Regions from separate parts of the Homo sapiens genome. Here region 2 is linked to region 1. Evidence: fine-mapped expression QTL. A gene starts in region 1. The other region holds a variant in brackets. All regions are shown on one strand. Distances are from middle to middle. Region 1 holds the start of AQP8 (aquaporin 8). Region 2 overlaps LCMT1 (leucine carboxyl methyltransferase 1).

Evidence for each region. PIP is the estimated chance that this variant, and not a neighbour inherited with it, causes the effect. A credible set is the group of variants that fine-mapping cannot tell apart.
Region 2: its variant is the best candidate, but not a certain one, in a credible set for the expression of AQP8 in cerebellum (GTEx, PIP 0.82).

What each region holds. Positions count from the first base shown.
Region 1 is chr16:25,210,338-25,226,767 of GRCh38, forward strand. It overlaps AQP8 (aquaporin 8), which reads left to right and starts at 6,610. Exons shown (of 6, transcript NM_001169.3): 1 at 6,610-6,720; 2 at 6,861-7,108; 3 at 11,120-11,246; 4 at 14,025-14,239. The coding sequence starts at 6,709.
Region 2 is chr16:25,176,781-25,193,210 of GRCh38, forward strand. LCMT1 (leucine carboxyl methyltransferase 1) reads left to right here. Exons shown (of 11, transcript NM_016309.3): 11 at 1,221-1,448. The coding sequence ends at 1,243. It also overlaps the pseudogene RN7SL557P. Among named protein-coding and RNA genes, the nearest start is that of AQP8, 32 kb to the right of the region's middle. The variant C/T (reference allele first, on the strand shown) is at 4,356.

The DNA of each region.
Region 1 (16,430 bases):
AAGTTATTAACCTGAAACCCAGTATCTCTGGAATTTGGGGATGATGTATCTGCAAGAACTGTTCTCTTCTGCAAGTACTTGAAATACAAGAACATAAATTCTTTAATTCAGAGGACCCCAAACTTTCTTGGTTCACTCTGTGCGGAGGCCCCCCCCAAAAAAAATACCTAATAGCTCTATTTATTAAGGAATTAGGTGCAAAACACTTAAAAAGTTCTTATGTTCTAACAACTTAGTAGCCATTTGTAAAAAAACCCCACATGTACACAAAACATTCACATATATTGTACAGACAATAATACACATACACTGAATAAGACAAGTACATTAAAAACATATTTTATTTATATTTGTATTTCATTCTTAAATAATTACATAACCTCCCAGCAGGTTCACCTTGCCCGCTGCCTAGACAGAGCCAATTTATCAAGATAGGGAAATTGCCATAGAGAAAGAGTAATTCACGCAGAGCTGGCTGTGCAGAAGACCAGTTTATTATTACTCAAATCAGTCTCCCCAAGCATTCAGGGGTCAGAGTTTTTAAGGACGACTTGGTGGGTGGGAGTAAGCCGGTGAGTCAGGAGTGCTGATTGGTCAGAGATGAAATTATATGGAGTTGAAGCTGTCTCCTTGCGCTGAGTCAGTTCCTGAGGGAGCCCACAAGATCACATGAGCCAGTTTATCCATCTAGGTGGTGGTGCTAGCTGATCCATCAAGTACAGGGTCTGCAGAATAGCTCAAGTACTGGTCTTAGGTTTTACAATCATATATATATATATTTTTATATCTATATATTTTATATTATATATATATTTATTTTATTTTATATATATATATATATATATATATATATATATATATATATATATATTTTTTTTTTTTTTTTTTTTTTTTTTTTTTAAGATGGAGTCTTGCTCTGTTGCCCAGGCTGGAGTGCAATGATGTGATCTTGGCTCACTGCAATTGCTGCTTCCCAGGTCCAAGTGATTCTCTTGCCTCAGCCTCCTGAGTAGTTGGGACTACAGGTGTGTGCCACAACGCCCCACTAATGTCTGTATTTTTTTTTTTTTTTTTTTTTTTTTTTGAGACGGAGTCTCGCTCTGTCACCCAGGCTGGAGTGCAGTGGCGGGATCTCGGCTCACTGCAAGCTCCGCCTCCCGGGTTCATGCCATTCTCCTGCCTCAGCCTCCCAAGTAGCTGGGACTACAGGCGCCCGCCACTACGCCCAGCTAATTTTTTGTATTTTTAGTAGAGACGGGGTTTCACCGTTTTAGCCGGGATGGTCTCGATCTGCTGACCTCGTGATCCGCCCGCCTCGGCCTCCCAAAGTGCTGGGATTACAGGCGTGAGCCACCGCGCCCGGCCTAATGTCTGTATTTTTAATAGAGACGGGGTTTCACTATATGGCCAGGCTGGTCTCAAACTCCTGACCTCAGGTAATGAACCTGCCTCGGCCTCCCAAAATGGTGGGATTACAAGGGTGAGCCACTACATCTGGCCTATATATACGGTCCAAGATGGCTGCCACAGCAGCAGCGTCACATCTGGCACAACAGTGCAGCCATCAAGGCAAGAGAGAAGGGAAAGGTGAGATGCCAGGGTAAAATGTGACCTGTTTCTACACTCCATCTGGACCTGGTGGGGGATGGCAGACAGGTATAGATGCAGAGAAGTCTTGCCAACCAAACAGGGATAAAGATTAGAAGCCTTGGTCCTGTTAACCAGACCTGGATTTGGAAAACTAGGAAGTTTGCCAGCCAAAGAATTTTTTAGGAAGACAGTATCTCCTTAGCCCACTAGGTTTTTCAGTGGTTTTGAGAGACAGTATATTGTGTATGAGGACATCAGGACATACTCTAAAACTCTCATGTAGTGGAAATATGTTGTTTTGTCTGAATGGCATTCAGGTTTTCCCTGGAAGCCACTAGTTTTCTTTTTCTTTCCTTTTTTTTTTCTTTTTTTAATTAAGACGGACTCTTGCTCTGTTGCCAAGGCTGGAGTGCAGTGGTGCAATCTTGGCTCACTGCAATCTCCACCTCCCGTGTTCAAGCAATTCTCCTGCCTCAGCCTCCTGAGTAGTTGGGACTACAGGCGCGTGCCACCATGCCCGGCTAATTTCTTGTATTTTTAGGAGAGATGGGGTTTTACTGTGTTAGCCAGGATGGTCTCGATCTCCTGACCTTGTGATTCACCCGCCTTGGCCTCCCAAAGTGCTGGGATTACAGGCATGAGCCGCTGCACTGGCCTAGTTTTGGAGTTATGGAATCCAACCTTGCCTTGAGCAAGGGAAGGGTGTTTTTAGAGGACCAATAGGTAGTTTGCCCAGGCATCAGAGAGGACATAATATCTGATCTGAGATCTGAATGAGGAGTAGAAGTTGGCCAAGAGGGCAAACAAGGACTCCAAACAGAGGGACTGGCATGGACAAGGCCGGGTGAGGGTACATAGCTTATCTGATAAATTGTTTAGGGTTCATGTGGCAAGAGATGATTCAGGGGCTAGGAACTGAAGTCTCTGTGGCTAGCTAAGGGAGTCTGGGTTTGTCTTGGAACCATGGGACACACTGAATGATTTAATTCAGGGAAAAACTCAACTAGAACCATGGTCTCTGGGAAAGCAACAATTTCTAGTATGTGGCAGAAATTGCTCGATATTCATAAAATGCCTTTCTTTTTCCTCCTGGGCACAGGGCTAGACTACAATTCCCAGGCTCGATTGCAGTCAGGTGAAGCCACGTGACTGAGTTTGAGCCCATCAAATATAGGTGAGAGGGATATATGGTATTTCTAGGCCTAGCCCATAATAATTTCCTGCACAGCCCTCCACATTCTCTTTTTCCCATTTTGCTGGAGAAGATCTGAGGACCTAGATGGGGCAGCTCCAAGATGGAAGTGGCCTGGATCCCTGAGTCACCATTTGGAGACGAGCCTGTCATGGACTATTATGTGAGCAAAGAATCCATTTTTTGGGGGGTGGGGGGGTGGGATGGAGTGTCGCTCTGTGGCCCAGGCTGGAGTGCTGTGGTGTGATCTCGGCTCGCTGCAACCTCCGTCTTCCAGGTTCAAGCGATTCTCCTGCCTCAGCCTCCTGAGTAGCTGGGATTACAGGCGTGTGCCACCATGCCCAGCTAATTTTTGTATTTTTGGTAGAGATGGGGTTTCACCATGTTGGTCAGGCTGGTCTTGAACTCCTGACCTTGTGATCTGCCCGCGTTGGCCTCCCAAAGTGCTGGGATTACAGGTGCGAGCCAGTGCATCCAGCTTAGTTTTTCTTTGTTCAAGGGACTAAGCAAGAACAGATGAAGGCATGGGTGAAAACAAGAGAGAATTATTCTGGAAGCAGTACTGGCAGGATTTGAGCAAATAATGAGGGGGATGGGGAAGCCTTGGGTCAGACTATCTTATGTTGCTATTTATAGGATGTGGAAGGAAGGGTCTAAGAAACATCTTGTATGATGTGCTGTGGGATATGGAGGAGGTAGAGAACAGGGCTAAAAATAACCTTCCTAGAGGTGCAGATATTTGGCAGAGACCCTGTATTCCTGGGCCTCTCGCTGACATGGGCTGTCAACAAACTGTCACGCTCTTCTCTAGATATGTCCACTTCTGTCCTGAAGCAGATATTTTTATGTACACAGCCATGGGTGAGTTCTTAACTTCTTTGTGCCTCGTTTTTATCATCTGAAGATGGTGATAATAAGTGATAGGACTTATCTCAAAGGGGTTTACGAATATATACCGAGTGTTTAGCATGGTGTTGGAGATGTAGTGAGTAGTTGAGAAATGTCAGAAATGAGCATTAAAATTCCGTTAGCTCTAGCTTGACTTCTCTATCAGTGCATACAAACACTCAAAGATAAAGCTATGAGACAGAGCAGGATTTTGCCTGTCTTGTTCACTGCTACATCTCCAGCCAGCTTAGAACAGTGACTGGCTTGCAGCAGCTATTTAAATGTTTGGTGAGTGAATGAATGAATAAGGAACTCATCTCATTTTCTTTCCTTCCTCCTTCCTTTCTCCCTTCCTTCCTCCCTCCCTTCCTTTCTTTCTTCCCTTCTTTCCAACCATCCATCCATCCATCCATCCATTCATCCATCCACCCACCCATCTATCCATCCATCCATCCATCCATCCATCCATCCACCCACCCACCCACCCAACCATCTATCTATCCATCCATCCATCCACCCATCCATCCATGCATCCACCCATCCATCCACTTATCCATCCATCCATCCATCCATCCATCCATCCATCCATCCATCTCTCTTAGAAAGGCAGTAGAGTGTAGTGGGTTAGCTCACAAGTATTTTTTTTCAATTGTGGCAAGATACACATAAAATAAAATATGCCATTTTAACCTTTTTTTTTTTGAGATGGAGTCTCATCCTCTCACCCAGGCTGGAGTGTAGTGGTGTGATCTCAGCTCACTACAACCTCTGCCCCCCAGGTTCAAGCGATTCTCCTGCCTCAGCTTCCCAAGTAGCTGGGATTACAGGCGTGCACCACCACACCCAGCCAATTTTTGTATTTTTAGTAGAGACAGGGTTTCACCATGTGGCCAGACTGGTGTCAAACTCCTAAAATCAAGTGATCCTCCTGCCTTGGTCTCCCAAAGTGCTGAGATTACAGGTGTGAGCCAAGCACACCCAGCATTTGGAACCATTTTTAAGTGTACATTTCAGTGACATTAAGTACTTCACATTGTTGTGCCACTGTATCATCCATCCCAAAACTTTCCTCCCAAACAGGAAATCTGTACCCGCTAAACACAAACTCTTCATTCTCCCTTCCCCTCGGGCCGTGGAAACCACCATTCTACTTCTGTCTCTATGAATTTGACTAGTCTAGGTACTTCATACAAGTGGAATCAGATACAGTATTTATCCTTTTGTGACAGCCCACAAGTTCTGTGATCATATAAGCTGTGTAATCTTGGGAAACTCAATCTTCCTGACACTCCACTTCCTCGTCTGTGAAATGGTTGTAATAATAGTACCTGCTTCACAGGGTGGCAGTGAGGTTTAAATGAGATAATAGAAGGCACTTAGCCCCAGTGCCTGGCACATAGAAAGTGCTCACTATTAGCTATTAGTTACAGCTAAGCATGTATTGTAAATTAGTGGACACTGGTATTGTGTGTCTAGCACTGTCCTGAGCACTTTACCCGTATTATCTCATTTAAACTTCCCAACGACCCTATGACATGGTGAAACCACTAACATCCACACCTAACAGATGAGAAAACAAAGGCCCAGAGAGGCCAAGTCATGTGCCCAAGGGTTACATAGCTAGTTTACAGCAGAGCTGGGATTGAACGCCAGGCAGCCTATTTCCAAAGTTCATGGGTCTTGCCGCTGCATTGCATTACCTCTTGCCAGTCTCTGCTGCCTCTGTCTGTGAAGGATCGTCATCTATACACTCAGTCCTGGCTCAGGCTGTCACGGTGACTGCAGGTGTTTGAAGCTGTGGGACTCATTGGAAAAATAATTGAAAATGGGATTGCTGTTTCTTTCTTTTCTTTTTTCTTTCTTTCTTTCTTTTTTTTTTTTTTTTTTTTAGACAGGGTCTCACTCTGAGGCTGAAGTGCAGTGGCGCGATCTTGGCTCACTGCAACCTCTGGGTCCTGGGTTCAAGTGATTCTCATGCCTCATCCTCCTGAGTAGCTGGGATTACAGGCAAACACCAACACGCCCTCTCTTTCTTTCTCCTTCCTTCCTTCTTTTCTTTCTTTTTCTTTTTTCTTTCTTTCTTTCTTTCTTTCTTTCTTTCTTTCTTTCTTTCTTTCTTTCCTTCCTTCTTTTCTTTCTTTCTTTTTCTTTCTTTTTCTTTCTTTCTTTCTTTCTTTCTTTCTTTCTTTCTTTCTTTCTTTCTTTCTTTTTCTTTCTTTCTTTCTTTCTTTCTTTCTTTCTTTCTTTCTTTCTTTCTTTCTTTCTTTTCTTTCCTTTCTTTCTTTCTCTGTCTTTCTTTCTTCTTTCTCTTTCCTTTTTTTTTTTTTTCAGAGCCTTGCTCTGTTGCCCAGGCTGGAGTGCAGTTGCACAATCTTGGCTCTGCGCAATCTTCGTCTCCCAGGTTCAAATGATTTTCCTGCCTTAGCCCCCCAAGTAGCTGGGATTACAGGCGTGCACCACCACGCCCGGCTGAGTTTTGTATTTTTAGTAGAGACGGGGTTTCACCGTGTTAGCCAGGATGGTCTCAATCTCCTGACCTCGTGATCCACCTGCCTCGGCCTCCCAAAGTGCTGGGATTACAGGCGTGAGCCACTGCACCTGGCTGTTTGCTGTTTCTTAACATGTGAGGTTCCAACCCAGTGGGGCCCACTAACATGTGCTGTTCTGCTTTGGACCGTGGGGAGCTGGGGTGCTGGACCCATCTCCCACCTTCTACAGCCTGGAGTGTGCTCCCAGATGACACAGCCAAGCTGGCGTGTTTTTCCCTCACTGGCGGAAAGTTCAGCAATCCCTGACTCCCTCACCCTGCCCTGTTGAGATTTAAAAAAATTTCCTCTTCTGGGCCTCAGAGCCGCCTCCTACCTGAGGTTTATTGCTTTCTCTGCACCAGCATTGAGCCTCTGCAGCCCTTTAAAAGGGGCAGAGCCCATAGTGTGATCAGCAGGTCCTGTCCCTAGGAGATAAGAGTATCTTGCACAGCAGGTGCAGGTTTCCCAGCAGCTCAGGCAAGAGTCCGATGTTTGTGCCATCTGATCCTGATGTCTGGAGAGGTGAGCCCTCTGTCGGCATCTTCCTCTCCAGGCTGGCAGAGCAAGGGGGGCTGTGAATTAATTCAAGGTTGGGGGTCGGGGCCTTCTATATCTGGACTTGCCTCCCACCCGTGTCCTCTGTCCCTTTTTCCCTACGGCAGATAGCCATGTGTGAGCCTGAATTTGGCAATGACAAGGCCAGGGAGCCGAGCGTGGGTGGCAGGTGGCGAGTGTCCTGGTACGAACGGTTTGTGCAGCCATGTCTGGTCGAACTGCTGGGCTCTGCTCTCTTCATCTTCATCGGGTGCCTGTCGGTCATTGAGAATGGGACGGACACTGGGCTGCTGCAGCCGGCCCTGGCCCACGGGCTGGCTTTGGGGCTCGTGATTGCCACGCTGGGGAATATCAGGTGAGACCAGCTCTGAGGATTCAGCCTGATGCTGACTTGGGGCACTGGGTGTGGAAAGCAAAGGCGTTGTCAAGGACCCCTGGGCGCATACGTATTCGGGATTTCAAGGAGCGCTCTGGATAACTATGGGGTTGGGAGTCAGACTGGGGTCAACTCCAGACCCCGCAGCCTGTGAGCTTGTGACTTTGAGCAAGTCATTCTCTTTTTGAGTAGCTGGATCACAGGCATGCGCCGCAGCACCCAACTAATTTTTAAATTTTGTTGTAGAGATGGGGTCTCACTATGTTGCCCAGGCTAGTCTTGAACTCCTGGTCTCAAGCGATCCTCCTGCCTTGGCTTCCCAAAGTTTTGGGATTACAGGCATGAGACACCATGCCTGGCTGGCAAGTTACTCTCTAAACCCAAAGTTCCCCGCCTATAAAATGGGAATAGTAGCTTTTAAATGTTTTTTTTTTCAAGCCAACATATCTATATTGCTAACCATGTACCAGGCACTAGTCTAATTACTTTATAGATATTAGTTATTTAATCCTCACAAAAGCCTTGTGGGGTAGGTCCTGTTATTAGCCCCATTGTACAGCTGCAAAAGTGAAAGGCCATGTAATCTGTCCAAGCTTAGAGGGCCAGAAAGTGGCAGAGGCGGGAGTCAAGAACAAGCTGTCTGGCTCCAGCGCTCAAATCCAAGTGCCTCATGCGGAAGTCATGAGAATTAAATGAAGTAGAGCGCCTGGCACACACCAAACATACAACAGGCATTGGTTGCTGTGTTATTGTTACCACTAGAAGGGGGTTTTAGGGAAAGCAGAAATGCATAGAAGACCTGAGCCAGGTTTTCCCACCTGGGTATGCAGAGATCTGCAGTGGTCCTGGCTTGTCAAGAGGTGATCAAGAAGGAGGGGCAGGGAAAGGGACAGGCTTCTCTGGCTTAGCTCTCGTCTGGGTAGAGGCTCAATGGGGAGGTCTGTGGACATGGCTGCTGGTTCCCAGGAGAGCCAGCCATCACGACGAAGATCTTGAGTGGGGTGCCTGGCAGGGTGATCTGGGACATGGTTGGTCTGTATTAAATCTCACTCAAAAAATAGATCTGAATGAGGAAACAGAAATACTATTTCTGAGAAAACCAGAATGGAAAAGAGCTTTAACATCTCTTTAGGCCGGGTGCAGTGGCTCACGCCTGTAATCCCAGCACTTTGGGAGGCTGAGGCGGGTGGATCACCTGAGGTCAGGAGTTGGAGAGCAGCCTGGCCAACAGGGTGAAACCCTGTCTCTACTAAAGATACAAAAATTAGCTGGGCGTGGGGGCAGGCACCTGTGGTCCCAGCTACTTCGGAGGCTGAGGCAGGAGAATTGCTTGAACTGGGAGGGAGAGGTTGCAGTGAGCCGAGATTGTGCCACTGCACTCCAGCCTGGGCAACAGAGTGAGACTCCATCTCCAAAAAACAAACAAACAAACAAACAAACAAAAAACAAACCACATCTCTTTAGACGTCCAAGGGAGGCTGCAAGTGAAACAAAAAGTACATGATCTTCCCTTTGGACGGATCTGAGATTGAAGGCAACCTTTATCACTTCTTAGCAGGGTGACCACAGCAAGTTGCTGAAGCCTCTGTGTGCAGTGGTATAAATATGAGTAATAATAATAGCTGATGTTTTTTGAATGCTAACTACATAGATACTACTATGGGCTGTACAAATATTAATTCTTAATATCTTTGCAATAGCTTTATCAGGCAGAGATCATTGAGGCACAGAGAGGTTATGTAACTTTGCCAATGCCACACAGCTCTTCAGTGGCAGAGTTGAGCTTTGAACCCAGGCCAGCTGGCTGGAAAGACCATCTCTTTGGCACTGCAAATACTGCCTCTCTGTTTGGCTTTTTTGACAAATATTTATTCAGCACCTATTGCGTGCCAGACACTGACTTTGAGGTTGTTCACTGGATCCAGGATAAGCTATGTATGTAAGTTATAAGCACCCAGCACAGCCCCTGGCACACAGTAAGTGTCAGAGAAATATATGCTGAGTGAACAATGAATGAATGAATGAATGTGTCTTGATTGTTTTATTGCTAATGAGTGTAAACCAGGAAATGTGTGGTTTTCGTCACCTGGCCCTCCTGATAGAGCCATGCTCTGGGTGACAGTTTCTCTCCCCTTTGGGGCTCCCCTGGGAAGCCGCCTCACCCTGACTTCATCTGTGTATCTCAGCAGAGCCCAGGCTAAGCTACTTGAGGCCAAGTAGGCCTGGCTGCCCCTCTTCCCAACCTGTGGAGTCTGAGCACTGGCTGGTGCTTTCAAACCATGCATGGAGGTCAGGCGCAGTGGCTCACGCCTGTAATCCCAGCACTTTGGGAGGCCGAGGCAGGTGAATCACCTGAGGTCAGGAGTTCGAGACCAACCTGGCCAACATGGTGAAACCCCGTCTCTACCAAAAATACAAAAATTAGCCGGGCGTGGTGGCAGCCCCGTTATCCCATCTACTTGGGAGGCTGAAGCAGAAGAATCGCTTGAAACCAGGAGGCGGAGGTTGCAGTGAGCCGAGATTGCACCATTGCACTCCAGCCTGGGTGACAAAGGGAGACCCTGTCTCAAAAAAAAAAACAAAAAACAAAAAACAAATCAAATCAAACCGTGCATGGAGCTTATCTGAGGGCCTGGGCCCAGAGCTGAGCCAGACAAGTTGGGGTAGCTGGTCTCGAGCTATCAGGGTGTTGGACAAAGTCCTTTTGGGCAGAGCTGAGGTCCTCTGCCCAGTCTCAACTGAATGTCCTATGTCCTTTGGAGGATGGGTAAGCTCATTGGTGGGCTCTTTACATTAGGGGGGCACTTTGGTTCTCAAGTGACATGGGGAGTCTTGGGGTCCCTTTCTCTCTCATTGGGGAGTATCCATTCCTGGAAACCAGATGGATTCAGGAGGCCAAACTGTGACAATATTTCCTCCATCAGAGTGGGACTGGTTGGGACACTGATGTGAGTGCAGCCACCCTGGCTCTGGGGCCTGGGCTGGTTGAACATCTTGGTGAACACGAAGGCTCTTTACCCATGAGCCAGGGGGTGGCTGATCAACTGCAACCTGCCCTTTGACCTCAGGTTCTGACTTGTCTAATTCCCTTCCACACCCCAAACTCCCAATCCCAATCCCTAACCTGGTCATGAACCTCCAACTCCACCCCGTGATTCTCAATGCCATTTTCAGCCTGAACTCCAAATCTGCATTTTACACCCATCACACTTTCAGACCACAAGTAGGGTTTTCACTGGCTGAGCAGTTCAACCAATCAGGAGGTCTTATTCAGGGCCTAGCTACTCATAAAGGGAGACCCGGGCCGGGCACGGTAGCTCGTGCCTGTAACCCCAGCACTTTGGGAGGCCGACGTGGGTGGATCGCTTGAGGTCAGGAGTTTGAGACCAGCCTGACCAACATGGTGAAACCTCGTCTCTACTAAAAATACAAAAATAAGCCAGGCGTGGTGGCACACACCTGTAGTTCCAGCTACTTAGGAGGCTGAGTCAGAAGAATTGCTTGAACTCAAAAGGTGGAAGCTGCAGTGAGCCGAGATCACACCATTGCACTGCAGCCCGCGCGACAGAGCAAGACTCCGTCTCGTAAAATCAAACAAATCATAAGGGGAGGCCTGGATACCGCTCTTGGGCTACTAACTTGGAGCCTTGGTATCTCAATCTGACCTGTGGCCACATCTCTGAAGGGCTGGAGGGAGGCTTGGAGGGAGTCAGGGAGGAGTTAAGGGATGGTCTCCCTACACGCTCTTCCTCCAGGGCCATCCTGGGGGCTGGGCTTTGGACTTAGAGGCTGCCCTTTATCTCTTACCCTCTGCCTGGCATCTCAGGGAAAATGGAAGCAATTTGGTGCCTCTTTGTATTTGAGCTGGGCCCCGGACTGACTCTTGCCCTGAGAGGCCAGCCTGGTGGGTTGGCTGGGACACACTGTCTCAAGTGCCAGCCATGTGGTCAGCCCTGGGCTCATGACTTCCTCTGCTCTTGTGGGTTACAGTGGTGGACACTTCAACCCTGCGGTGTCCCTGGCAGCCATGCTGATCGGAGGCCTCAACCTGGTGATGCTCCTCCCGTACTGGGTCTCACAGCTGCTCGGGGGGATGCTCGGGGCTGCCTTGGCCAAGGTGGGTAAACCCCAGGGGCTGGGCTAGTCTTCCTCTCTGATGGGGCTGCTGGAGGTGCATATGTGGGTGTGTGTGTGGGACAGTGGGGAGTGGGGAAATGTCCAATCTTTTGCTTGTTTCTGCCAGTGGAATTGGTGGACGTTTTTCTTCTCTCTTTCTTTCTTATTGCATTTTATTGTATTTTTTATTTGTTTGTTTTTTTGAGATGGAGTCTTGCTCTGTCACCCAGGCTGGAGTGCAGTGGCCTGATCTTGGCTCACTGCAACCTCTGCCTCCTGGGCTCAAGCAATTCTCCCACCTCAGCCTCCTGAGTAACTGGGATTACAGGCGCATGCCACCATGCCCAGCTAATTTTTGTATTTTTAGTAGAGACGGGGTTTCATCATGTTGGCCAGGCTGGTCTTGAACTACTGAGCTCAAGTGATCTACCTGCCTTGGTCTCCCAAAGTGCTGGGGTTACAGGCATGAGCCACTGTGCCCGGCCTCTCTTTTTTATTTTAGAGATAGGGTCTCACTCTGTTGTCCAGGCTGGAGTGTGGTGGTGCAATCATAGCTCACTGCAGGCTCGACCTCCTGGGCTCAAGTGATCCTCCTGCCTCAGCCTCTTGAGTAGCTGGGACTACAGGTGTGTGTCACCACACCCAACTAATTTCCTCTGCCTAGGAAAACCAGAGACCTTTGTTCACTTGTTTATCTGCTGACCTTCCCTCCACTATTGTCCTATGACCCTGCCAAATCCCCCTCTGTGAGAAACACCCAAGAATTATCAATAAAAAATAAATAAATTAAAAAAAATTTTTTTCTGTAGAGGTGGGCTCTCGCTGTGTTGACCACATTGGCCTCCAACTCCTGGCCTCAAGTGATCTTCCTGCCTTGGCCTCCCAAAGTGCTGGGATTACAGACATGAGCCACCGAGCCTGGCCAGCCACAGAGTTTTCATAGCTTTATGCATAAATCCATGGATAGACTTTCTCCCTTCATCCCTCTTTTTCTTTTTTTTCCCTCTCTTTCTTTCTTTTCTTTTGCCCTTAAGTCTTGGTTCAGCCAGGGATACTTCAAGCCCTTCAAGATGTGGGCCTTGCTTGGTGTGTGTGTGGGGGGTGGTGGATGGGGGAGCTCTGTCAGCTTGGCTGTGATAGGGTCTGAAGCTGTAAGTGCTGACCCACCGCAGACTTTGTTCTCAAGCCTCACTTTACTGTCATCCCCTGCTGTGGTCTCTCCATGTCCCAATTTGAGAGCCACAGCCTGTTCCCCTGTCTATGGAACACGCCCGGGACCTTCCTTCTCGGCTTCTGCTCTGAAAAGCAGTGGCCAGACTCGAGCTCAAGCCCTGCCACTTAAAACCTGTCAAACATGGTTCTGACAGCTGCGGGGCAGCAGGGTTCCCTAAGCACATTCTTCCTGCTAAATGTTTTACACATATTCTCTTATTTCATCTCCCAGCAACTTTATGAAAAACCATAGTCAGTTCATAGAGAGCGCTTACCTTGTGCCAGGCACACCAACGGCCTTGTCTGTGAGCTGGGAGCTGTCAGTATCATCCCTATTTTATAGATGAGAAAACAGAGGTGCAGAGAAGCAGGTAACTTGCTCAAGTTCAGACGTGCCTGTAAGCAGCACAGCCCCGACTGGATCCAGAGTCCAGAAGCTTGTGCACTGCACTGTCTTTCCCCTTCGGGGCTGTGATAGCCCTGAGGCCGATCGCCCATAGAAATAATTGAGCTCAGGCTTCAGGGCTCTCCTGCACATGCCCCTTCCACGGTCCTGTGGGGGCTTAGCAATGAGTTCACCTGATCATATGTGTTTGTAAAGTTTCTAAGAGTAAGGTATTTTTAGCCACGCATGGCGGCTGGTGCCTGTAATCCCAGCATTTTGGGAGGCAGAGGCGGGAGGATCACTGGAGCCTAGGAGTTCCAGACCAGCCTGGGCAACATAGTAAGACCTTCCATCTCTACAAAAAATTTTAAAAAAAACATTAGGTGGGCATGGTTGGTATGTACCTGTGGTCCCAGCTACATGAGAGGCTGAGGTAGGAGGAACACTGGAGCCCAGGAGGTCCAGGCTGCAGTGAGCTATGATCGTGTCACTGCACTCCAGCCTGGGTGACAGAGCTAGACTCTGTGTCAAAGAAAAATAAAAAGATAGTTTATGTTCTTTTTCTCAAAGAGGATCATCTAAGTTACATAAGTTTTAGGTCTGTAACCTGGAGCCATGACTGGGTTATCCCCATTTTTCTTTTTCTTTTTCTTTTTTTTTTTTTTGAGACGGAGTCTTGCTCTGTTGTTCAAGCTGGAGTGCAGTGGTGTGATCTCAGCTCACTGCAACCTCTGCTTCCAGAGTTCAAGTGATTCTGGTGCCTCAGCCTCCTGAGCAGCTGGGATTACAGGTGCCTGCCACTTCACCCCGCTAATTTTTGTATTTGTAGTGGAGATGGGGTTTCACCATGTTGGCAAGGCTGGTCTCAAACTCCTGGGCTCTAGTGACCCACCCATCTCAGCCTCCCAAAGTGCTGGGGTTGCTGGCGTGAGCCACCACGCCTAGCCCCATTACTATTTTTCAGCTGAACAAAGTGAGGCTCAGAAAGGTTCAGTAGTTCACGCAGGGTCGCACAGTAAAATCTGGCAGAGCTGGGATGTGGATGCAGGTATATCTAACTGAAATTGGACATAACCCTTCACTGGCTCTTAAGGTGGGTAGCATGCGTTTTTTAGGCCCTCTCCCCTCAGTTTCCAGCTGTCTCTCTGCCCCACTGTGAGGCTCAGCAGCTTCTCTGTGCAGGCGGTGAGTCCTGAGGAGAGGTTCTGGAATGCATCTGGGGCGGCCTTTGTGACAGTCCAGGAGCAGGGGCAGGTGGCAGGGGCGTTGGTGGCAGAGATCATCCTGACGACGCTGCTGGCCCTGGCTGTATGCATGGGTGCCATCAATGAGAAGACAAAGGGCCCTCTGGCCCCGTTCTCCATCGGCTTTGCCGTCACCGTGGATATCCTGGCTGGGTGAGTGTCCCTTGGCAGTGGGGTGACCATGCCCAGATCTGTGCTGTTCAGCTCTGGGGGATTTCAGGCCTGAGGGTCACAGATTCAGTTGCTATTAGGGGCCAGGAAGGTGCTGCAAATGGGGAGGGGGGCTGGCATCAGGCAGACAACAGGGAGTGGTGGGGACTGCAGTGTCAGAGGTGCTGCAGTCAGTTCAGCTCTTGTCAATTATTGCTGGGTACATGGGTCTGGGCTGATGCTTTCATTCAAAGGAAGTCAGAAATTTAAATCTGTATGTGATGTTTTCCAATGTTGGTAGCGTAAATACAACATTTCTGTGAACTGTGTTCATTCGGTCAGCGGGCAGCCGGGTTTTAGCCTCAGGCTTACAAAGAGCATGTGTAGCTGTTGTCTCATTTATTTTTAGACTCCCAGCAGGCTTTGGAAGGGATTAAGTAGACAAGATTGGGGATGATGTCTCCCGTTTTATAGATAAGGAAACTGAGGCTTAGAGAGGACAGAAGTGACTTATTTAAGGTCAGTGGGCAGTGGCAAATTAAGTGATAGATTTGGGACAAGAGGCTGAGTGAACCCTTTTAATTTTTGTTGTAGAGATAGGGGTCACGCTCTGTTGCCCAGGCTGGTCTTGAACTCCTGGCTTCAAGCCATCCTCCTGCGTTGGCCTCTCAAAAGTACTGGAATTACAGGCATGAGCCACAGTGCCCAGCCCAGGGAGCCCCTCCCTAATGTCTGACTCTTTCCTTTCTTTTGGACACAGAACCAAGTCTAACCTTTCTCCTGGGTCAGCTCTCCCTCAACTTTGGGAGGTGGAGCCTGGGGCAGGCTGGGGAATGTGTGTGTAAAGCTGTGGCCATGCTTTGCTGCCCCCTAGTGGTCTTTGATTCACTTACAAGCCCTTTTTTTTTTTTTTAGCTCCGCTTCCCGGGTTCACGCCATTGTCCTGCCTCAGCCTCACGAGTATCTGGGACTACAGGCGTCCGCCACCACGCCCGGCTAATTTTTTTTTGTATTTTTGGTAGAGACGGGGTTTCACCGTATTAGGCAGGATGGTCTCGATTTCCTGATCTCATGATCCGCCCGCCTTGGCCTCCCAAAGTGCTGGGATTACAGGCTGAGCCACCGCGCCCCGCCTACTTACAAGCTTTTTGACTTCGAAGCTGGACACAGGGTGGGGATGAGGTCTACAGGCCCCCAGCTGGAGAGAATGGGGTAAAGACAGAGCCCCAGAACGAGAGGAGTGCACCTGGGGAAGAGTCTCCCTGTAGGATTCTGGGTCTTAAGCTTGTGGTGCAACAAGGGCCTCATCTGGACCAGCTAGATTAGTTAATGCTTTTTGTACATTAATTATATTCGAGGTGTGGGCTCCATTTGCATTTTCTCATTCACTCCTGATGACAACCTATGGGATAGTCACTTTCACCTCACCTGAACACAGAGAGGTTCATGGAGGTTCCCACACCTAGAACTATCTGGGCTGGGGTTTTTCTTTCTTTATATGTATATTTTTAAAGCTTTGTGGGTGAACCTAGTAGGTGTATATATTTCTGGGTTACATGAGATGTTTTGGTACAGGCATGCAATGCATAATTATCACATCAAGGTGAATGGGGTATTCATCCCCTCAAGCATTTATTTTTTGTGTCACAAACAATCCACTTATACTCTTCGTTATTTTATTTTATTTTTAGTTTTAGTTTTTGAGACAGAGTCTTGCTCTGTCACCCAGGCTGGAGTGCAGTGGCATGATCATGGCTCACTGCAACTTCCAACCCCCAGGTTCAAGCAATTCTCCTGGCTTAGCCTCCCCAGTAGCTGGGACTACAGGCGTGTGCCACTATTCCCAGCTAACTTTGTATTTTTAATACAGACAGGGTTTCACCATGTTGGCCAGGCTGGTCTCTAACTCCTGACCTCAAGTGATCTGCCTGCCTTGGCCTCCTAAACTGCTGGGATTTCAGGCATGAGCCTCTGTGTCTGGCTGAGGTTACATGAGATGTTTTGATACAGGTATGCAATGTGTAATAATCACGTCAAAGTAAACGGGGTATTCATCCCCTCAAGCATTTATTCTTTGGGTCACGAACAATCCTATGATACACTTTTTGTTATTTTATAATGTGTGGGCTGGGTTTTGAATCTAGGTCAGCTTGACTCCAAAAGGATTGAAACTGATTGACTTTCCTTTGTAGAC
Region 2 (16,430 bases), 34 kb before region 1:
CGAACTCCTGACCTTAAGTGATCTGCCTGGCTCGGCCCCCCAAAGTGCTGGGATTATAGGCATGAGCCATTGTGCCTGGCCTTCACATTCCTTTTGGATTTAAAGTCATTTATTGTGAATTGAGCGCAGTGGCTCATGCCTGTAATCCCAGCACTTTGGGAGGCTAAGGCAGGCAGATCACCTGAGGTCAGGAGTTCGAAACCAGCCTGGCCAACATGGTGAAATCCCGTCTCTACTAAAAATACAAAATTTAGCTGGGCGTGGTGGCACATGCCTGTAGTCCCAGCTACTTGGGAGGCTGAGGCAGGAGAATCTCTTGAACCCGGGAGGCAGAAGTTGCAGTGAGCTGAGATGGCACCACTGTACTCCAGCCTGGGCAACAGAGCGCGACTCTGTCTCCAGAAAAAAAAAAAAGTCACTTATTGGGGTATTTGTATGTTATCCTCCTCTTAATTATATTAAAAAATACTTCTTAGTAGGAAACTTAAAAGCTTCTAAAAAGTATGACTAAGAAAATCCACCTGTATGCCTGTCAGTCAGAGATGACCTCTTGTGACTTTTCCCTTCCCCTCTATTTCTAAATAGTGTTTTGTTTGTTTTTATAATAAGAGTTGAATTTTTATATTTATGCAACTTTGATTTCAAGTGTTTTCAATTTAATGTTATAACATTAGCATTTCCCCCTGGCAATTAAAAATGCTCAATGAGCATAATTGTAATGGCTTTATAATATTGTATTATGTCACTATGGCTGAATTAATATTTCCATATTTTTGGAAATGTAGGTTATTTGTAATACTTTTAAGTGAACTCTAGTTCTCACAAAGGAACAATATATTGAGCATTTTAATGTCAGGAATTTACTTTGTCCCCACTGACCCGTGACTGCTTTGGGACATCAGTGCTTGTCTGTGTGTGTGGAAGATCCGTATCTGCCTTTGCTCAAAGTTCAGCACATAAAGGGTAGATTTTTGGCGTTAACTGCAGACAGTCCATAAACTGTTATAATGTTTTCTTAATCATTTTAAAACCACCCATAAACACAGTCTTACCCAACCTTTTGTTTCCTTGCGAAACCTCATTTTATGTAGCAGGAGGGCGGTGCTACAGTGGTCAGCAGTGTGGCTGGTGCCCCTGAGCCGGTCACTGGGGGTCCTCTAGGGGCCTCTGCTCCTGGCCACCAGAGTCTCCTAATGGTGTCTGTGTGTCTCTCCCCTCAGGGCTGAAGGAGATAACTTATTAATCTGTCGAAGGCTTATGCCGAGCCAGAAGCCGAAGCCACTTGCCCTCCTGGAGGAGACCTGCAAGCTCCCTGAGCGGTGGGCGGGCCTCGTCCGCAGGTCTCATCCCACACTCTTGAGAAGCCTTGGTCACTACAGTGGTCGCACATGTTCCTCTTCCTGTTCCTGTTGACATGTCGTTGTTTAAATAAATCTCACTTGCCACCAGTCGCCTGTGGTTGGACCTCTGCTGGCTGCCGCTGCTCGTTCCGTGCCCCATGGCTTGGGCGGGCCAGGGTTCACCTCTGTGTTAGCTAAAGCCAAGGACCCCAAGTCTGCTTTGACCTTGGCTTACTCCCTGTGAGTCACACCCGGCCCATGACCTTGAGTCCATTTTAGGATCTACTCCCTCACATGCTGTTTGTTGCAGCACATGACATTGTGCCTCACTCCCTGACCCTTGTCCTCCACCAGATGTGAGGCTAGTGCTCTTCTCGGGCTCCTGTCTCCGCCCTGGCCACACTGGCCTGCTCAGTTGCCTCCTTCATCTTGGTCATGGTGGCAGGCTGAAGAATGGCCCCTAAAGTGTCCATGTCCTGATCCCCAGAACCTGTGAGTGTGTGTTACCTTCTGTGGCAAAGGGGCTTTGCAAATGGGATTAGGGGTTTGAGATGAAGAGGTGGTCCTGGGTTATCCAGGTGGGCCTGATAGGATCACGGGGTCCTCATTAGAGGGACAGACGAGGCGTCAGAGTCAGAGGGGCCCAGACAAGAAGCAGGGGCAACCAGGGGATGCTACCTAGGGCAATAGCAGCAGACCCTCCCTTGGCCTCCAGCTGGAACTGCCTGCCAACACCTTGATGTTAGCCCAGAGAAATCGATTTCAGATTTCTCACCTCCAGAGCCGTAAGAGAATACATCTGTGGTGGTGGTTTTTTTTTTTTTTTTTTCTTTTTTTTAGATGGAGTCTTGCTCTGTTGCCCAGGCTTGGAGTGCAGTGGCGCGATCTCGGCTCACTGCACCCTCTGCCTCCCGGGTTCAAGTGATTCTTCCGCCTCAGCCTCCCAAGTAGCTGGGATTACAGGTGCATACCATCATGCCTGTCTAATTTTTGTATTTTTAGTGGAGATAGAGTTTCACCATGTTGGCCAGGCTGGTCACGAACTCCTGACCTCAAGTGATCCGCCCGTCTTGGCCTCCCAAAGTGCTGGGATTACAGGCATGAGCCTCTGTGCCCAGACTGATCTGTGGTGTTTTGAGCCACCAAGTTGGGGGCTTAAACTTACAGCCACAACTAGAAGTCAATGCAGTTATGAGACAGGTTCATAGGGCCCCTGAGTGATGACCTCATATTTCAGAAACATAAGGCTTGTCCCATACCTGTCTGCTGAACTCCCTGAGTGATGGGTAGACCTTGTCTACAGGGACTTCTTAAGTTATGTGACTGGCGCTGCGAGCCTGAACCTGCATGTGCAGGGTGGCACTGCAGAAGTCCCCAGCGCTCTCCTCTGCTGGAGAGGTAACAGCCTCTCTTCTACCATTCAGAATCCTTAAATCAGTGTCCCCTAGAGTGTGGGCCCTGCACCTCTAGTGGCATGCCAGTTGATGGGATGTGTTCCTATCAATAAATACCTGTGATAAAATGTATAAATTAGGTGCAGTAAGACTAGCAACAATTTAAAAAAGAACAACTATAGCAATATGTTAAGGTTATGTGAATGTGGTCTTTGAAGATATCTTAACTGGCCGAGTGCAGTGGTGCACGCCTGTAATCCCAGCACTTGGGGAGGCCAAGACAGGTGGATCCTGAAGTCAGGAGTTCGAGACCAGCCTGGCCAACATGGTGAAACCCCCCCCCCACCGCCCCGCCGCCTGTAATTCCAGCTCTTTGGGGGGCTGAGATGGGCAGATCACAAGGTCAGGAGTTCAAGACCAGCCTGGCCAACATGGTGAAACCCTGTCTCTACTAAAAATACAAAAAAAAAAAAAAAAAAATCCGGGCTTGGTGGCAGGCATCTGTAAGGCAGGAGAATTGCTTGAACCCAGGAGGCAGAGGTTGCAGTGAACCGAGATTGCGCCACTGCACTCCAGCCTGGATGACAGAGCAAGACTCCATCTTGGAAAAAAAGAAAATATCTTAGCTATACTCACTTATTTTTGGACCTCAACTGACCTCAGGTAACGGAAACCTTGGAAAACAAAACCACAGGAAAGGGGTAACTCTGGTATATGTATAGCATTAGCAGAAACAATGTTTACTTTTTTTATTGAGACGGAGTCTTGCTCTGTCACCTAGCCTGGAGTGCAGTGGCGCGATCTCAGCTCACTGCAAGCTCCACCTCCCGGATTCACGCCATTCTCCTGCCCCAGCTTCCCAAGTAGCTGGGACTACAGGAGCCCGCCACCATGCCCAGCTAATTTTTTTTGTGTTTTTAGTAGAGATGGAGTTTCACCACGTTAGGCAGGATGGTCTCTATCTCCTGACCTCGTGATCCACCTGCCTCGGCCTCCCAAAGTGCTGGGATTACAGGCGTGAGCCGCCGTGCCTGGCCCCACAATGTTTACTTTTTGTTGTTGTTGTTTTCAGAAAGGGTCTTGCCCCATCTCCCAGGCTGGAGTGCAGTAGTGCAGTCATAGCTCTCTGCAGCCTCAACCTCCTTGGGCTCAAGTGATCCTCCTTCCTCAGCCTCCTGAGTAACTGAACCACAGGCACACACCAGCAAGCCTGGCTATTTTTAACTTTTTTTGTGGAGACAGGGTCTCCCTATGTTGCCAGGGGTGGTCTTGAACTCGGGTTCAAGTGATCCTCCCATCCGTCCTATTCCAAATTTGATATTGAAATTAGGCCAGTTAATAACCCTACAATGGCCTCTACATGCTCAAGTGAAAGGAAGAGTCACAAAGAGTCACATGCCTTTCACTTTAAATCAAAGCTGGAAATGATTAAGCTTGGTGAGGAAGGCACGTCAAAAGCTGAAATAGGGTCGGCTGTGGTGGCTCATGCCTGTAATCCCAGCACTTTGGGAGGCCGAGGTGGGCGGATCACCTGAGGTCAGGAGTTTGAGACCAGCCTGGCCAACATAGTGAAACCTCATCTCTACTAAAAGTACAAAAATTAGCCTGGTGTGGTGGCAGG[C/T]GCCTGTAGTCCCAGCTACTTGGGAGTTTGAGGCAGGAGAATCGCTTGAACCTGGGAGGCAGAGGTTGCAGTGAGCGAAGATGGCACCACTGCACTCCAGCCTGGGTGACAGAGTGAGACTCCATCTGAAAAAAAAAAAAAAAAAAAAAAAAACTGAAATAGGCCGAAAGCTAGACCTCTTGTGCCAAACAGCCAAGTTGTGAATGCAAAGGAAAAGTTCTTGGAGGAAATGAAAAAGTGCTACTCCAGTGAACACATGAATGATAAGAAAGCGAAACTGTATTATTACCGATATGGAGAAAGTTTGAGCGGTCTGTATAGAAGATCAAACCAGCCACAACCTTCCCTTAAGCCAAAGCCTAATCGAGAGCAGGGCCCTAACTCTCTTCAATTATGTGATGGCTGAGAGAGGAGAGGAAGCTGCAGAAGAAAAGTTGGAAGCTAGCAGAGGTTGGTTCCTGAGGTTTAAGGAAAGAAGCCGTCTCCATAACATAAAAGTGCAAGGTGAAGCAGCAGGTGCTGATGGAGAAACTGAAGCAAGTTGTCCAGAAGATCCAGCTGAGATCATTGATGAAGGAAGGTGGCTACACTAAACAACAGATTTTCAATGTAGGCAAAACAGCTTTCTCTTGCAAGAGGATGCCATCTAGGACTTCCAAAGCTAGAGAGGAGAATTCAATGCCTGGCTTCAAAACTTCATAGGAAAGCCTGACTTCTTAGTGTCTAGTATGAAATGCAGCTGGTGACATTAAGTTAAGGTCAGTGCTTATTTACCATTCTGAAAATCCTAGGGCCCTTAAGAATTATGCTAAATCCACTGGGTGCAGTGGGTCATGCCAAGGCAGGCGGATTGCTTGAGGCCAGGAGTTCGAAACTAGCCGAGCCAACATGGTGAAACCCCATCTTTACTAAAAAATACAAAAATTAGCTGGGTGTGGTGGTGCATGCCTGTAGTCCCAGCTACTTGGGAGGCTGAGGCACGAGGATTGCTTGAACCTGGGAGGTGGAAGTTGCACTGAAGCAAGATTGTGCCACTGCACTCCGGTTTGTGTGACAGAGTGAGACTCTGTCTCAAAAAAAAAAAAAAAAGGTGCCAAATCTGTGTGCTATAGAAATGGAACAACAAAGCCCAGGTGACAGCACATCTGATTACGGTGTGGTTTACTGAGTATTTTAAGGCCATTGTTGACACCTACTACTGAGAAAAAAAATTACTTTCAAAATATTATTGCTTATTGACAGTGCACCTGGTCACCAAAGAACTCTGACAGAGATGTGCAAGGCGATGAATGCTGTTTTCATGCATGCTGACACAACATTCATTCTGCAGCCCCACGGATCAAGGAGTAATTTTGACTTTCAAGTCTTACTATTTAGAAATGTATTTTGTAAGGCCAGGTGCAGTGGCTCACGCTTGTAATCCCAGCACTTTGGGAGGCCGAGGTGGGTGGATCACAAGGTCAAGAGTTCCAGACCAGCCTGGCCAATATGGTGAAACCCCGTCTCTACTAAAAATACATAAATTAACCCGGCGCAGTGGCGGGCGGCAGTAGTCCCAGCTACTTGGGAGGCTGAGGCAGGAGAATCGCTTGAACTTGGGAGGCAGAGGTTGCAGTGAGCCAAGATCACGCCACTGCACTCCAGCCTGGGCGACAGAGTGAGACTCCATCTCAAAAAAAAAAAAAATAATAATGAAATACATTTTGTAAGGCTGTAGCCACCATAGGTAGTGATTTCTCTGATGGATCTGGGTAAAGTACATTGGAAACCTTCTGAAAAGGATTCACCATTCTAGATGCCATTAAGAACATTAGTAGCCGAGCACGGTGGCTCATGCCTGTAACCCCAGCACTTTGGGAGGCCGAGATGGGCAAATCATTTGAGGTCAGGAGTTCAAGACCAGCCTGGCCAACATGGTGAAACCCCCTTCTCTACTAAAAATGCAAAAATTAGCCGGGTGTGGTGGGACATGCCTGTAATCCCAGCTATTGAGGAGGCTGAGGCAGGAGAATTGCTTGAGCCCGGGAGGCGGAGGTTGCAGTGAGCCGAGATCACGCCATTGCGCTCCAGCCTGGGCCACAGAGCTAGACTCCGTCTCAAAAAAAAAAAAAAAAAAAAAATTAGTAATGCATGGGAGGAGGTCGAAATATCAACCTTAATGGGTTTGGATGAAGTTGATTCCAGCCCTCATGGATGATTTTGAGGCATTTAAGACTTCAGTAGAGGAAGGAATTGCAGATGTGGTGGAAATAGCAAGGTAACTAGAATTAGGAATGGAGCATAAAGATGTGACTGAATTGCTGCAATCTCATGATCAGACTTCAACGGATGAGGAATTGCTACTTATGAATGAGCAGAGAAAGTGGTTTCTTGAGATAGAATCTACTCCTACATCCTTGAAGATGCTGTGAACATTGTTGAAATGACAATAAGGGATTTAAGATGTTACACAAATTTAGTTGATAAAGCAGCAGCAAAGTTTAAAAGGAATGACTCCAATTTTGAAAGAAGTTCTACTGTGAGTAAAATGCTGTAAAACAGCCTCTCTCGCCACAGAAATCTTTCGGGAAAGGAAGAGTCAACCAATGAGGCAAACTTCATTGTTGTCTGCACAGCCATTCACTGATCTTTCAGTAACCACCACCCTGCTCAACCAGCAACCATCAACATCAAAGCAAGACTCTCCACCAGCCAAATGATGATGACTTGCTGAAGGCTCAGATGATCATTAGCATTTTTAAAGCAATAACGTATTTTTAAAGTAAGGCATGCACATCTTAAAGACATAATACTATTGCACACGTAATAGAATACAGTATAGCATAAACATAACATTTATATGCACTGGGAAACCAAAAAATTCATGTGATATTCACTTTATTGAGATGATCTGGAACTAAACCTGCAATATCTCTCAGATATTCCTGTACGTGAAATCTTTCGAAAGAACAATATTTGTTCTTTTTTTCTTTTCTTTTCTTTTCTTTTTCTTTTTCTTTTTTTTTTTTTTTGAGATGGAGTCTTGCTCTTGTTGCCCAGGCTGGAGTACAATGGTGCGATCTCTGCTCACTGCAACCTCCGCCTCCCAGGCTCAAGCGATTCTCCTGCCTCAGCCTCCCGAGTAGCTGGGACTACAGGTGCACAACACCGCACCCAGCTAATTTTTGTATTTCCAGTAGAGACGGGGTTTCACCATGTTGGCCAGACTGGTCTCGAACTCCTGACCTCAGGTGATCTGCTTGCCTTAGCCTCCCAAGGTGCTGGAATTATAGGCGTGAGCCACCACGCCCGGCCTGGATTTCTTATATATAAGATCATGACAGACATAATGTTACTTCTGTGCCATTTTGGATGCCTTCTCTTTGTTTTTCTTGCACAATTTCTCTGTCTACCTTCAATCCGATATTGAATAGAAGTAGTAAAAAGTGGACATCCTTGTCTTATGCCTGCTATTGGAGAAAAAGCTTTTAGTCTTTCGTTGTTGAGTATGATATTAGCTGTGGGTTTTTTTATATGGTCAGGTTGTGTATGGTGGCTCCTGCCTGTAATCCCAGCAGTTTGGGAGGCTGAGGTGGGAGGATTGCTTGAGGTCAGGAGTTTGAGATCAGTCTGGGCAACATAGGAAGACTCTTTGTTTACAAAAAACTAAAAAATTAGCTGGGCATGGTGGTGCATGCCTAGCTACTTGGAGGCTGAGGCAGGATGATAGCTTGAGCCCGGGAGTTTGAGGTTACAGTGAGTAATGATCATGCCACTGCCCTCCAGCCTGGACAACATAGCAAAATCCTGCCTCATAAATAAATAGTCTTTATTATATTGAATTAATTTCCTATTTCTAATTTCGTTGAGTGCTTTTTAAATCATGAAAGGATATAAATGTTCTCAAATTTTTGTTTATATCAATTGAGATGATTGTGTGTGTGTGTGTTTTTTTTTCCCCTTTGGTTAATGTGGTACATTACATCGGTTGATTTTTGTACATTGGGCCACTCCAGGAATAATTCCACTTGGTCATGGCATATAATTCTTTTAATATACTGCTGAGTTCAGTTTGCTAGAATACCAAAAAAAGCCAGGCGTGGTGGCAACATGCCTATCATCCAGCTACTGAAGAGGCTGAGGTGGAAAGATCACTTGAGCTGGGGAGTTGGAGGCTGCAGTGAGCCGTGATCAAGCCACTGAACTCCACGCTGAGCGACAGTTTTCTAGAATTTTCGTTGAGGATTTTTGTATCCATCTTTTTTATTATTGTTGTTGAGACAAGGTCTCACTCTGTCGCTCAGCATGGAGTTCAGTGGCTTGATCACGGCTCACTGCAGCCTCCAACTCCCCAGCTCAAGTGATCTTTCCACCTCAGCCTCTTCAGTAGCTGGGATGACAGGCATGTTGCCACCATGCCTGGCTTTTTTTGATATTTTTTCTGTAGAGATGAGGTTTCGCCATGTCGCCCAGGCTGGTCTCAAACTCCTGAACTCAAGCAATCTGCCTGCCTCAGCCTCCCAAAGTACTGGCATTACAGGCTTGAGCCACCACAACCAGCCTAGTAATGTTCTTTTCTTTTTTGAGACAGAGTCTCACTCTGTTGCCCAGGCTGGAGTGCAGTGACACAATCTTGTTCACTGCAACCTCCACCTTCAAGGTTCAAGCGATTCTCGTGCCTCAGCCTCCTGAGTAGCTGGGATTACAGGCATGTGCCACCACGCCCGGCTAATTTTTTTTTTTCGAGATGGAGTTTCACTTTTGTCACCCAGGCTGGAGTGCAATGGCACCATCTTGGCTCACTGCAACCTCTGCCTCCTGGGTTCAAGTGATTCTCCTGCCTCAGCCTCCTGAGTAGCTGGAATTACAGGCGCCCGCCACCACGCCTGGCTAATTTTTTGTATTTTTAGTAGAGACGGGGTTTCACTGTGTTGGCCAGGCTGGCCTCAAACTCCTGACCTAGTGATCCACCCGCCTTGGCCTCCCAAAGTGCTGGGATTACAGGCGTGAGCCACCATGCCTGGCCAATTTTTGTATTTTTAGTAGAGACGGGGTTTCACCATGTTGGCTAGGCTGGTCCTGAACTCCTGATCTCAAATGATCCACCTGCCTCGGCCTCCCAAAGTGCTGCTGGGATTACAGGCGTGAGCAACTACACCCGGCCTCAATCTTTATATGAGATATTAGTCTGTAATCTTCTTCCAGGGTCTTCATTTAGCTTTGGTACTGGGGCCATGCTTTTAGAATCAGTTAGGAAGTGTTTCCTCCTTTTTCTTTTTTCTTTTGAATTAGTTTGAGAAGAATTGGTATTAATTAAACATGCATTCGCTGCATGTGTGTGGAGTGTCCTGCACATGTCTGTTAGGTCCAGTTTGTTCACAGTGTTGTTCCTGTCCTCTGTTTCCTTATTCATCTTCTCTCTAGCTGTTCTCACCATAGGCTTCAGACTCCAAAGCTTATCTGAGACCTTGATCTTTTTTCTTTTTTTCTTTGAGGCAGAGTCCTGCTCTGTCACCCAGGGTGGAGTGCAGTGGCACAATCTCAGCTCACTGCTACCTCTGCCTCTCGGGTTCAAGCAATCCTCCCACCTCAGCCTCCCTAGTAGCTGGGATTACAGGCAAGCGCCACCATGCCGAGCTAATTTTTGTATTTTTAGTAGAGATGGAGTTTCTCCATGTTGACCAGGCTGGCCTCGAACTCCTGACCTCAGGTCATCCACCCGCTTTGGCCTCCCAAAGTGCTGTGATTACAGGTGTGAGCCACCGTGGCCGGCCTGAAACCTGGATCTTAACCCTAATTAACCAAACAGAGGGAAAAGTCTGATGTCTCCTAGATGGAATTCCCAGGAGCCTATCTTAACCTCCTCTTAGGTGACTCACCAGCTTCTCAAACAACATTTCTAAAACCAAATACATCTTTCCCCCTCTCCTAAATAACTTTACTTTTCTTTTCTTTTTTTTTTTTTGAGACGGAGTTTTGCTGTGTCACCCAGGCTGGAGTGCAGTGGTATAGTCTCAGCTCACTGCAGCCTCCACCTCGCAGGTTCAAGCGATTCTCTTGCCTCAACCTCTGAGTAGCTGGAATTACAGGCATGAGTCACCACATCCAGCTAATTTTTGCATTTTTAGTAGAGATGAGGTCTTGCCATGTTGGCCAGGTTGCTCTCGAACTCCTGACCTCAGGTGATCCACCCTCCTTGGCCTCCCAAAGTGCTGGGATTACAGGCATGAGCCACCACGCCTGGCCCTAAATAGCTCTTCTTTAATGAGCTTTGAATTCCTTCCCAGCAGGACCTCCACTCCACTCAGCATCCTCAGAGTCATCGACTCCTTGCTTCTCCTTGTTCTCCTCACTGGCTAGGAGGCCATGTTTGGTTCCTTTTCCTCAATCAGCGTGTTTATCATAACTGTCTCTACTGTACTGCTGCCACCCAGACTCAGTCTTCTGTCTCACAAGAATCTTTTTGGCCTTTGTTCTCAGCCTCCTGCATTCCTGTAGACAACAAACCTGTCCCCTGAAGCCCTGAGCACATCATTCCAGTGACCAAAGACTGTCAAAGCTGCCTCTTTGCTTAATGCCTGAACGCCCAACTCTTAACAAGGCAAGGAAGATGCTCTGTGATTGGGCCTCATCTTACATGTAGTCTTATTTTCTAGTCAAAAAACCAGGTGCCGCCAGGCTGTATCTAATGCCAGCCTCTCTCCTTGGCCTGTGCTTTCCCCAGAGTTCATGCCTGCAACCCTGCCCACCTTCAAAGCCCACCCCAAATGCAAACTTCCTTGACCCTTTCATTTTTTTTTTTTCCTCGAGATGGAGTCTTGCTCTGTTGCCCAGGCTGGAGTGCAATGGCATGATCTCAGCTCACTGCAACCTCTGCCTCCCAGGTTCAAGCAATTCTCCTACCTCAGCCTCCTGAGTAGCTGGGATCACAGGTGTGCGCCACCACACCCAGCTAATTTTTGTATTTTTAGTACAGACGGGGTTTCACCATGTTGGCTAGAGTGGTCTTGAACTCCTGACCTCAGGCAATCTGCCCTCCTCGGCCTCCCAAAGTGCTGGGATTACAGGTGTGAGCCACTGCACCTGGCTCCTTTCATTATTTTATTATTTTATTCAATGAAAGATAAGCACCTACTGTATAAGCAAGACAGACATGACATATGCCCTTAAGGAGCTTTCATTCTTTTGGAGGACTGTCAAATATGCCTTACTGTAAGGTATGGCAACCTTTATGTGGGAAAGCCATGGATTCACCTAACAAAAGCAGCTTATTGGCTGGGTGCAGTGGCTCATGCCTGTAATCCCAGCACTTTAGGAGGCCAAAGCAGGCGGATCACTTGAGGTCAGGAGTTCGAGAGCAGCCTGGCCAACATGGTGAAACCCTGTCTCTATTAAAAAAAAAAAAAAGAAAATTAGGCCAGGCGTGGTGGCTTACGCCTGTAATCCCAGCACTCTGGGAGGCCGAGGCGGGTGGATCATGAGGTCAAGAGATCGAGACCATCCTGGCCAACATGGTGAAACTCCGTCTCTACTAAAATACAAAAATTAGCTGGGCATGGTGGCACGTGCCTGTAGTCCCAGCTACTCCAGAGGCTGAGGCAGGAGAGTTGCTTGAACCCGGGAGGTGGAGGTTGCAGTGAGCCGAGATCGCACCACTGCACTCCAGCCTGGCGACAGAGTGAGACTCTGCCTCAAAAACAACAACAACAACAAAACTAGCCTTAGCGCGGCATGGTGACGCACACCTGTCATCCCAGGTACTCAGGAGGCTGAGGCACGAGAATCACTTGAACCCAGGAAGCGGAGGTTGAGCTCTCAGTGAACTGAGATCGCACCACTGCACTCCAGCCTGGGCAACAGAGCAAGACTCCGTCTCAAAGAAAAAGAAAAAGAAAAAAAGAGAAGCAGCTTTTCCATTTAAGCTGGCCGAGGAAGCTTTCCTGAGACTGTCATACAAAGTCCCCTAGGCAGATGGATTCGCATTCGCAAGAGAGCATGCCTGTATACCCGTGTCTTCCGTCATTACTAACCAATTGCATATTTGTGCTTCTAATTGCTTGTGTTAATTTATTCCGTCCCTATAACAACTCCACGTCAGTTTGTTTTAATCCTCACTTTTTTTTGAGACCGGGCCTCACTCCTGTCACCCATGTTGGAGCGCAGTGGCATAATCGCAGCTCATTGCAACCACTTTGGGCTCAACGGATCCTCCCACCTCAACCTCCCAAGTCTAATTAGCTAGGACTACAGGCATATGCCACCATGCCTGACTGATTTTTTATATTTTGTATAGATGGGGTCTCACCGTGTTGCCCAGGTTTGTCTTGAACTCCTGGGCTCACGCCGTCCTCTTGCTTTGGCCTCCCAAAGTGTTCGGATTACAGGCGTGAGTCACTGTGCCCAGCCTTATTCTCATTTTAAACATGAGGAAATAAGGGTATGTGGAAATTGTGTAATTTGTCCAAGGTCATACAGCCAATCAATGATGGAACTGAATTTGAAACCAGGCAGGTTGGCTTTAGAGCCTGTGCTTTTGACTGCTATGTTATATGTGTCTCCTTTCTCCCTGCCCTTAATAGCACATAAAATCTTTTTCTTTTCCCCCAGCACCACCATTACATGAAGGTGTGGGGTCTCATTTCTTCCCATTTGTCAGGTTGGCTTATTTCTCCTTTTCTGGGCACCCCTTGATGCTGTTGATGAAGAATGACCCTCTCCTCAAAAGTCTTACAGTTCTTAGTGAGGCTTTTGAATACTTAGTTGCAGAAACGGCTTTTGAAATGCACTATCTAAATGGTTTCAGGAATACGCCATTAATTGATGAATGCCACCAAGAGCTTGGATTCATGCCTTCTGCTCTGTCTTCCTTGGCATGTTGACTTTTTTTCTTTTTTTGGAGACAGGGTCTCACTCTCTCGCCCAGGCTGGAGTGCAGTGGCGTGATCTTGGCTCACTGCAACCTCTGCCTCCCTAATATAATCGGTGAGTTATATTACCCACAGATGTGCACATTTTATTGTCTCGCACAGATGCTGGAAGTAGACCACAAATTTGACTTCCCCCCAAGTCCTCTCAAGGATTGAAACATGATTCAAGTGCCTCAACTTCCTGAGTAGCTGGGATTATAGGCATGCGTCAGCATGCCCAGCTAATTTTCATTGTTTTTTCTGTGTGTGTTTTGTTTTATTTTTCAGTAGAGATGGGATTTCACCCTGTTGGTCAGGCTGGTCTCGAACTGCTGGCTTCAAGTGATCCACCTGCCTCGGCCTCCCAAAGTGCTGGGATTACAGGGGTGAGCCACTGCGCCTGGACAGCATGTTGACTTTTCATCTTCAGCTTGTTGCCTCATGATCACAAAGTAGCTCCCAGAGTGCCAGGCATCATAACTGCATTCATGGCAGGAAAAAAGATGGGTCTTTTTTTTTTTTCAGTGGTTTCTGTCTTTTTTATCCAGAATAAAATTGTTCCCAAATATGCCTAATAGACTTCCCTCTGTATCTCATGCTAAGAACTGGGTAGGGTTGCCAAATGAAATACAGAATGCCCAGTTAAATAGAATTTCAGTAAAGAACACATAATTAAAAAAATATATAACTGGGACCCATGTAATATTTGGCACATGCATACACTAAAGAAATAATGTGTTGTTTACCTGAAATTTGCAGTATACTTACACTAAAAACATTATGTGTTGTTTACCTGAAATTCAAATTAACTGGGCGTTCTGTATTTTTTTTTTTTTTTTTTTGCTAAATCTGGCAACCCTAGAACTAAATCTATTTGGAAGAGACGGTGGGAAATAGAATATCTGGCTTTCGAGCTTTTATAATACAAGATGGGCAAAATACACAGGACTTTTAGATCATCGGCTACCCAGTGTGAAGTCATTTTGGTTGTGTTCACTGTAGCGTGCAGAGAATTGGTTTGTTTTGTGTTTTGTTTTGTTTTGAGACAGAGTCTCCCTCTGTTGCCCAGGCTGGAATGCAGTGGCGCAATCTCAGCTCACCAAAACCTCCTCCTCCCAGGTTCAAGCGATTCTCCTGCCTCAGTCTCCCGAGTAGCTGGAATTACAGGTGCCAACCACCATGCCTGACTAATTTTTGTATAATTAGTAGAGATGGGGTTTCACCATATTGATCAGGCTGGTCTCGAACTCCTGACCTCAAGTGATCTGCCCTCCTTGGCCTTCCAAAGTGCTGGGATTACAGGCGTGAGCCACCGTGCCCAGCTGAGAATAGGTTTCTATAACGTCAGAAAATTTATGAAGTTTGAGGCAGGGTCAAACGATATTTTTTCATCTTATTGTTATTTTTTGTTTTGTTTTCTTAAGAGATGGGGTCTCACTGTCTCACCCAGGCTGGAGTGCGGTGGCATAATCACAGCTTTCTGCATCCTCAAACTCCTGACTCAAGGGATTCCATCTTAGAGGCTTTTATGCCTTTCATTTTTGGGTGGGAGAAGTGGATATCTGATCATGAATAAAGCATCTGTTATGGGCAGGAGATATATTTATATTTTGGTTTATTTCTTTATATCCCTCCTTGTTCTACAAGGGGAATTGAGATACCTGATAAAACTACAGCAACAGGATGGGCATGGTGGCTCACTCCTGTAGTCCCAGCATTTTGGGAGGCTGAGGCAGGCGGATCACAAGGTCAAGAGATCGACACCATCCTGGCCAACATGGTGAAACCCCATCTCTACTAAAAATACAAAAAATTAGCCGGGGGTGGTGGCTACTGCCTGTAATCCAGCTACTCAGGAGACTGAAGCAGGAGAATCACTTGAACCCAGGAGATGGAGGTTGCAGTGAGCTGAGATTGTGCCACCACACTCCAGCCTGGCGACAGAGCGAGACTGTCTCAAAACAAAACAAAAAAACAAAAAAAACTATACAACAGAAAAACAAACAAACAAACAAATGCTCGGGGAAGTTTGAACATGAGGCTTTTTTTGTTTGTTCATTTTGTTTTGTTTTAAATGCCAGGAGTTATTAGCCCACGGATGTGCACATTTCATTGTCTCGCATAGATGCTGGAAGTGGGCCATAAATTTGACTTCCCCCAAGTCCTCCCTCTCAAGGATTGAAACATGATTCAGTTTCCATAAAATTACAGCCAGCCACATGCTCAAGAGAGGCACAGCTGTTCCTGCAGGAGACCCTGGAGAAGCTTCACCCAGAAACCCTCAGTGAGATCCCTGTGATTCGCATGTTCGTGGACCTGGGTTTGTAGCTGATGCCCCAGGGTCCTTGGATGCAACTGATGACTTAATGCCGAAGTGAAATTCCATGAAGGTGATTCTATGAGGCCAAAGCAATGCGGTCTGATTATTTAGCTCTGGGAAGCTGGATTTAATGACAGAGTAGAATTTAGAAAATCTGGAAGGACTGAACCGGGAATGGTGGCTCACGCCTGTAATCCCAGCACTTTGGGAAGCCAAGGTGGGTGGATCACTTGAAGTCAGGAGTTCGAGACCAGCCTGGCCAACATGTTGAAACCCTGTCTCTACTAAAAAATACAAAAATTAGCCAGGCGGCTGGGCACAGTGGCTCAAGCCTGTAATCCCATCACTTTGGGAGGCTTGAGGTAGGCAGATCATGAGGTCAGGAGTTCGAGACCAGCCTGACCAATATGGTGAAATCCCGTCTCTACTAAAAATACAAAAATTAGCCGGGTGTGGCGGTGCACGCTTGTAGCCCCAGCTACTCAGGAGGCTGAGGCAGGAGAATGGCTTGAACCTGGCAGGCAGAGGTTGCAGTGAGATGAGATCGCACCACTGCACTCCAGCCTGGGTGACAGAGTGAGACTCCGTCTCAAAAAAAAAAAAAAAGTACAAATAGCATACCAACATTTTCTTGTACTCATAAGTTAGAATACAGAATTATTCAGAAATGTTTGTTCAAAGTTACCTTTGTGATTGCATTTTTCTATTACATTTGGATTTTTTTTTTTTTTTTGAGTCGGAGTCTTGCTCTGTCACCCAGGCTAGAGTGCAGTGGAGCGATCTTGGCTCACTGCAAGCTCCGCCTCCCGGGTTCACACCATTTTCCTGCCTCAGCCTCCTGAGTAGCTGGGACTACAGGTGCCCGCCACC